2 linked regions of the Homo sapiens genome follow. The protein of the gene in region 1 purifies or fractionates together with the protein of each later gene. This does not show direct contact. Each region holds a gene or a part of one and is shown on either strand. Other genes may lie near its edges.

The links.
Region 2: the proteins of KHDC1 (region 1) and POC1A purify together in Homo sapiens (affinity purification with mass spectrometry; one large-scale study listed by BioGRID and IntAct). This does not show direct contact.

Annotation. Positions count from the first base shown.
Region 1 is NC_000006.12:73,260,086-73,264,424, forward strand, and holds the start of KHDC1 (KH homology domain-containing protein 1), read right to left. Parts: upstream 3,112-4,339; 5' UTR 2,689-3,111; intron 1-2,688.
Region 2 is NC_000003.12:52,074,726-52,078,385, reverse strand, and holds the end of POC1A (POC1 centriolar protein homolog A), read left to right. Parts: intron 1-2,400; coding exon 2,401-2,499; 3' UTR 2,500-3,160; downstream 3,161-3,660.

The sequences.
Region 1 (4,339 bases):
AGCCCCCTCCTTTCCAGCTTTCCTCATTCCTACTTTAGAGTCCGCTATTGTGCCTTTATGCCTTCAAATTGGGGTATACCCATATATCCATATAAAAAACATTTTTCTTTCTGTAATCATTACAGGGGAGTCCAGTGTGATTTACAGAACAAATTGAAATCATTCTATCAAGATGTAAAAAAAATTAAGGGGAAGGCTCTGGGCTGGGGAATGTTAATTAGCCCCTAACCCACCCTATCATCTTTCTCTAGTTCACAAAGATAACTGTCAATTTATCCTCAATGTCCAGAATAATGCCTTATACCTAGTAAGCAATCAACAAATATTTGTTTAGAGAATGAGTAAACTATTACCATAGTTTATTTACCTGCTGAAATTATATTTTTCTAATTTTAAACTATTATGCAAAAAAAGTTTCCAGTTAAATATTTTGCATACCTCTTTTTGAACACCTGTTTATCTGTAGAATAAAAAAGTTAAATTAGAATGTCTGAAGCAATGTTCTTCAGTATAATCAATATTACTTCAAAGATTAATTTTAATATTTTAACTTCAATTAATACTGCCAAATCTACCCCCACCCCTAGCAGTGGCTATCCTGATTTATACTTCTACTAAGAATATTCACTTTTCCACAAAATTGATATTTTCAAATTTCAGTTTTAGCCAGTGTGGGAGAAAATGGATCTCTCTATTTTTTTGCTTTGCATGCCAGCATCACTAGTGCAGTTAAGCATCTTTTTTATGTGGTCAGTTTTATTTCATTCTTACTTCTTCATCTATTGTCTATTTATACATTTGCCCATTTCTCTGTAGGGTTGTCTTTTTCTTATATATATTTGTTTTCACTATCTATTCCAGATGTTAATTCTTTGTGCACTGTATGTTTCCTCTTTTTAAACTTTATTCATGGCATTTTTGTTCTATGAAACATTTTAGCCCATAATCTCACATCATGGAAGAGTAATTACCTTGCAAACCTCTCTTGTCTACTCCTACTCAGTAGCATCAAATCCAGTTGATTCAAGTCTTGCCCTCTCTTTAGAGGAAATATAGTGTGGTGATTAGAAGCATAGGCCAGGCATGGTGGCTCACACCTGTAATCCCAGCATTTTGGGAGGCCAAGGTGAGCAGATTACCTGAGGTCAGGAGTTTGAGACCAGCCTGGCCAACATGGTGAAACCCCGTCTTTACTAAAAATACAAAAATTAGCTGGGCATGGTGGCGCATGCCTGTAATCCCAGCTACTTGAGAGGCTGAGGCACGAGAATGGCTTGAACCCAGAAGGCGGGGATTGCAGTGAGCTAAGATCACGCCACTGCCTGGTGACAGAGCTAGACTCTGTCTCAAAAAATAAATAAATAAATAAAATTTTTTTTAAAAAAATAAGCATAGACTCTAGGACCAGGCACAGTGGCTCACACCTGTAATCCCAACACTTTGGGAGGTCGAGGCGGGCGGACCCCTTGAGCCCAGGAATTTGAGACCCGCCTGGGCAATATGGTGAAACCCTGTCACTATAAAAAAAATACCAAAAAAAAAAATAGGCTGGGAGTGGTGGCTCACGCCTGTAATCCCAGCACTTTGGGAGGCCAAGGCGGGTGGATCATGAGGTCAGGAGTTTGAAACCAGCCTGGCCAAGGTGGTGAAACCCCGTCTCTGCTAAAAATACAAAAATTAGCTGGGCATGGTGGCAGGCACCTGTAATCCCAGCTACTCGGGAGGCTGAGGCAGGAGAATCACTTGAACCCGGGAGATAGAGGTTGCAGTGAGCCAAGATCGCACCACTGCACTCCAGCCTGGGTGACAGAGCAAGACTCCATCTCAAAAAAAAAAAAAAAAGCCTAGCTGGGCAAGGTGGTATGTGCCTGCGGTCTCAGCTACTCAGGAGGCTGAGGTGAGAGAATTCATTGAGCCCGGCAGGTTGGAGCTGCAGTGAGCCATGATGGTGCCACAGCCCTCCAGCCTAGGCAGCAGGAAAGAGGCCCTTCTCAAAAAAAAAAAAGCATAGACTCTAGGGCCAAATTGATGTGCTCAAGCAAAGGTTTTGCCACTTACGGTGTAACCTTGGGCCAGTTGCTTAACCTCTCTTGACCTCACTTGCCTTCTTTGTAAACCAGAGGTGATAATAGTATACCCATTTCATAGGGCTGTGGTGAGAACTAGAGGAGTTAATACATTTAAAGAGCTTAAAAGTGTCTGGTGCATAGCAAGTGCTACGTAAATGTTAAACCTTTCCTGCCCTTTTCCTCTGCTCCTCCTTTCCCTTGTTTCCTGTTACAGCATTCCTTCTTTTTTTCTTACTATTTCCTCACTATGCCTTTGCTTGAATACTAAAAAGAAACTACTGGTCCAACAGCAGGCAACACCTCATGCGATTACTTTAAATGACTTCAAAATAATACAAACATATCCAGCACAATAGTTTACATTTTAAAGGTGTTACACCCATTTTGTTTTGAGATGTGTCAACAAAACCCGTGTTTCTTTTCTTTCTATAAGTTTAAAATGTCCCCAAATCAATTAACAATAGAGGAAAGTCACACGATCTGTTTTAATTTTTCTCTTTATACTGCTATCTCCTGTTTCCCCTGTTTTTACACTTCTTTGCAGCTCACTTTCCTTATCTGTAAGATATTCTTAGGATGAACTTAGTAAGAAATGTGCAAGATCTAGATGAAGACCCACCAGATAGGATGCTCTCTTGCAGACACGCAACTCACTGACTCAACCAATGAGGAAATTATCCCACAAAGCAGATAATCCTAATGGAGGGCAGAATTCAGGACTGAGCATCTCAGTGATGCCGCCGGGAACCCAGGCTTCTCTGTCCCTTCACCGGACTAACCGAGTTCGAGACCACAGGGGGGTCAGGTAGCCAAGGCTGGGCTTTGACGGTAGGAATGAAGGAGGTGAGGGTGGCGCGCCGCAGGCCTGGGCCACTCCCTGAGTAGGGCGGCGGCGGCGGCGGCGGCGGCGGCGGCAGCGGCGGCAGCGGCTGCAGGCCTGGCCGATTGTGAGGAGACAGCGGTACCTCCTGGGCCGCGCACCCGACCCTTCCAGGGGTCCCGGCTCGCGCCGCGGCCGCGCGAGGCGCGCTCGAGCGGAAGTGGCGGCGACCCCGCCGGAAGCGCGCGGCTGCGGCGCGGGAAGCAACCCAGAGCCCTCCTCCCGCCTGCTCTGTGTAGGAGACAGCCTGCGGAGCCCACTGCCGGCGCGCAGAGAGCCCAGCAGCTCTTGAGTCCAGGAAGCAAGGGTGGGAGGAGGGACGAGCCAGTGGCAATGACCCAGACCCGGACGACCCCCATTGCTGAGCCAGCGGAGCTGCTTGGTGAGTGGCCTCCAGGCGGCATCTCTTGCTCTCAGCCCGGAGGGGGTTTTGGGGACCCAGGCTGTGGGGCTGCCTCTTCCCATGCCTTCAGTTCACCCCGATATGGGGTGAAAAACCCTAGAGACCCTCGGGTGTCGGTCCACCAAGGGAGGTCCAGACTCCCCAGGAATGTTGCCTGGGGAGGGGTGTCGCGGTGGGGGGGGGGGTGACCCAGGCCCACCCTCTGCAGGGCACTTAAAATGCTCCACATCCCCAGTGGATGCCTCCTGTCACGCATCACACCGTGGTGTATTTGAGATCCCATCTGCCACTTGGGCTGGAGGGAAATGAATGTTTTTGGGTTTCTTGTCATTGCTTCCTGCGGATTCCATTTTACTCCTGTTCGTTTATGGCCTCAAACATGAATTTGAAGAATTTTGCCCTCCCTGGCAGTATTGGGAAGAAGATTCTTTTGTTCAAGTCCGTTTGGACAATTAGATGGGAGTATTAACAAAAGGTCGGGCTGGGCACAGTGGCTCACACCTGTAATCCCAACACTTTGGGAGGCCAAAGAGCAAGGATCGCTTGAGCCCAGGAGTTCGAAACCAGCTGGGGCAACAGAGGGAGAACTTGTCTCTACAAAAAATTTAAAAATCAGCTGGGCATGGTGGTGCACGCCTGTAGCCCAAGCTATATGGGAAGCTGAGGTGGGAGGATTGCTTGAGCCCGAGAGTTTGAGGCTGCTGTGAGCTGAGATCACGCCACTGCATTCCAGCCTGGGCAACAAAGCAAGACCCTGTCTGAGGTCAACTCTGCCCCCAGGAAGGTATGGGACCTTGCAATCTTATCTAGGTTGCGTCTTTTTCATTGAAATCACGAAATCATTAAGGTAAGTAGGGAAGGGTCAAGATAGCTAAGATGAGTGAGGGGACACAGACACCAATAAAAGTTCTAACTTTGAGGACTCCTCCAGTATTCTTTTCATCCTAAAGCTTCTGGCCTATCAGCTAGTTCAGACACAGCCTAGGA
Region 2 (3,660 bases), on another chromosome or scaffold:
ATTTTTTTTTTTTAACTACATGGAGCAAAGAGTGCCAGACAGCATTCTAATGTACAGAAATCCAAAAAGCATCCTGCTCTCCCAGGCCTTCTCCTGGCTCAGAGTGGGGGCAGCTGGGATCACGTGTGCTGGGAAGGGCCTGGTTGGACTTCTTTCTCCCTGATGGTGGCCACCACGAGGCACCTTGGCAGAGAAGGAACAGGGGAAGCTGAGACCAAACACAGAGATGACACAGCTCCTCTGAAGCTAGGCTGGAGGGGGAGAAACTGCCTTGAGGGGTGTTGGGCCTCATAAAAGCCTGTTTGTCTACTGTGCTGTGAAGTGATCCTCAAAGCTCTCAGAGGAAGGCCTCAACGGGGTGGCACCCTTCATGCAGGGGGCTGGTTGTGAAACAGGTGATGCTTCTCTTTTCAAATAATTTAGACACATTTAGTGGTCACATTCCTACTGAGCTGAAGTATGGGCCCCCTATGGAACTAAGTGGAGTCCCTTGTATTGACGTTGGCCCAGCACCTCACCCACGTTTTCTGGGCCCACTATCTCCACGTTTGCAAATTGGGTTCCTGTGAAAAGTTTCAAGAAAAAAAAAAAGGCAGAAGAGGAAAAACAGGCTCCTCTGCTGCGGCCTTGAGTTTGGGGCCATCGGAAAAAGTCTGGATGAAGAATGATTTTGGCCCTATGAGTTTCACAGCAGCCAGTGGAAACTTCCAGGAATGCTGCCCCGGGCCAGCCAGGGGCTGTTTCCGCTGCCACTTTTACGAGCTGCAGACCCCCTCCCCGGCTGGCTGGCCAGCACAGGGGGAATGTGATGGTCTCTTTCAGCTCAGCTCTGCCTCTTAGGGTGCAGTTTGTGTTCCATGGGCAGCAATTTTTCCAGGCTCTGTCCAGTGACAGAGGGTTCAGAGCCCTCACAGCCCTGATTGGCCCATTTAGAAGGGGCCAGCCACCAGGCGGAGCACCCTCCATGGCAGCTAATGTCTGTGCCGGACGCTGCAAGAATTTATAGCAGCCTTAAAGGGGGAGACTCCCTTCTAAAATGTTTCAATGTTTTATTAAATGTATGAAAGAAAGTTTCCTTTCCACTGGACCAAGGCCCAGGACTTCATGGAGCCCCAGGGAAGGGGGCAAAACCTCTTGGGAAAGCACACGGGTGAGGTTAATCTGACCCTCCTGATGCCTATGGGCTGCACAGTACCGGAGTCAAGGCTGCCATACTCACATGGGCTCATCCATTGGCCAGCAGGGGCCTGGCATACAGTAAGGCACTCAGCCAACCCTAAAGAGGGAAGTGAAATGATGCCAAAGGCGTCATGGCCAGCATGGTCCAACCCGCGCAAGTGATGAGTGGGGCAGGCTTGCTCTGGTCCAGCCCCTCTTTGGGGAGCATGCAGGCTCCCAGACAGTGCTGCCCCTCTGCTGACACTCTATCCAAAGCCAGAGGAGGAGGGCAGCTTTTCCCAGCCTGTCTGGGAGCTATGTCTGCAAGACTGGCCCTGGCCCATGAAGCACATGCAGCTCCAGCAGCTGGGGGCCTTTGGCAGGCCAGGCAGCCAGGTCCGCAGGTGAGCCATTGTGCTGGGTGTGTAAGAGAGGCCAGGAGAGCAAGGGCCCAGCTTCAGGAAGGCAGCATGATCTGCCTGACAAGCACTCTGACAAGCATGGTCAGAGTGAGCAACTGCTGGGCTGCTGAGTTACCTAGGCCATGAGCTTGGTTGTCTTTCGCACTGGGCGAAGGAGGAGAAAGTGGGCTCAGAGAGATGAAGTTGTCATGGCCTGTGATTGCCCTGGGCTGAAGTCCCACATGACATATCCTATAGTAGTATTCGTTGGACTTGGACAGGCAGAGACCCTCCTGGGATCAGGGGACTCACCTCCCTGCCTTTGTCCCCTGCCAGCCTGGGAGGCTCTTCCAGGTGTGAGGGGAAGGACCCAAGTGGAGTGCCATCATTTGTGGGTGCAATTTTCTCACCTCTGGAGTGGAGGTGGTTGATGGTCTCCAGTTGTTTATGGACAGTGCCTGGCTCAGACAAGGAAACTGGTTTTGCTGCAGAACTCCAATATAAATGCCAGGCCACCAGGGTGGGGGGTTCCTGACCCCTTGGTTCTCTTGAGAAATGACCAAAGGCTATGGGACCTGCCATCTAGTTTCCCTCACTGTGTCCCCACCCCCTGCCCACAAACATTATAGATCAGCCATCCAGAGCCAGGAGAAGCAGACATAAAGGCAAGGGCTATCCCAATAGCACCAGAGACAAGGGGCCTGGCAGAACCCCTGGGTGGAAAGAGCCAGCTGGCATTTGGGCAGTGGCTGAGGCAGCCAAGTGGGGACTGGCCAAGGGGGTCCCTAGAGCAGCCTGGCGGCCCTTCTGTGTTCTGACCCAACCACTGTTTATTTTGCAGACAGTCTCCATTCTGGAGCAGCGGTTGACACTGACAGAAGACAAGCTGAAGCAGTGTCTGGAGAACCAGCAGCTAATCATGCAGAGAGCAACACCATGATCAGGGGAGCAGGAATCAGGAGCTCGGTGGATTTGCAGGTGGCAGGCCAGGGATTTGTACCATGGGACTTGGGTAAATAAAGGGGACTGAACTCTGTGGGAATCACATCCATACTGGAGCCCTGGATTTTTGCAGTTCTGCCCTCCACCTTGCTATCTGCACCAGGAGGCTCTCCACCTGGCAGCCAGAGGTCCCCAGTGGGCCGGGCTCACACACAAATGATGCTTCAGACCCGAATGAGAGGACCACATTTTGCTTAATGTAAAGGAGCCACTTGAAAATGTCTGCTCCTTCGGGGTCCTGAGATTGTGGCTCCCCCTCTGGAGGAGGTGGCTCCACGATGCCTTGATTTTCACTCATCATTTGGACATGTGACTGGCTTTTCCTACCTCTGCCATGGTGTAGAAATTGATTGCACATTGATTGGATGAGCCGGGGGTTTTCTCTAAATCTGACTAAAGGCCCAAAGTGGGCCCATCTGAGTCAGGTTTGTTGAGAACAAGCCCTCTCAAGTGGGTGGTGGCTTTTCAGTGGCCCTGATTTCTGTTCCACACGTGTTCACTGGAGCCAGGTGACTTCCTCCTTGCGTGAGTGAGGGCACAGGAATCTCAAAATTAAACCTGACTTCATTGCACTTGTTGCAGGAGTGGCTTATGCTGGATGACACTTAATCAATCTTCCCATCCCCAGGGCCCAAACAGAATGAGAATGGTGACTTGGGACGGCCTCTGCCAGGATTGCCTCTGAGGCCAGGACCCCCCTGTTTGCAGCTGTTCAGGGTGTCGGGGAACAAGGGCAGTCAGAGCCCTTGCATGCACCCACCTCCCTCTGGCTGGCCCCCACTGACTGCTTCTGTTGGGACTCAGAGGCCTCAGGCACCCAAGTTTCCATTTGCTCCTGAGGGCTTCCATAGGGTCCTCCCTCTGCCCCTGTGCTGGGGAAGCCAGGACAAATGTTTTCCCTGTGTCTGTGTGTCGCCCGTGCCTTCCGTCTTCAGCTTCTTGGGGCTCAGCCAGCCAAGGAGGTCTTTATCCTCAAACACACCTGCCCTGCCCTGGGGAATGGGAGGTGGTGTTAGATCGTCCCAGGAGCTGTCAGTACCACGTGGTCAGTGGGTTCACAGCCTCTGCAGCCTCCAGGTGGAAGCAGAGCCTGCATGCC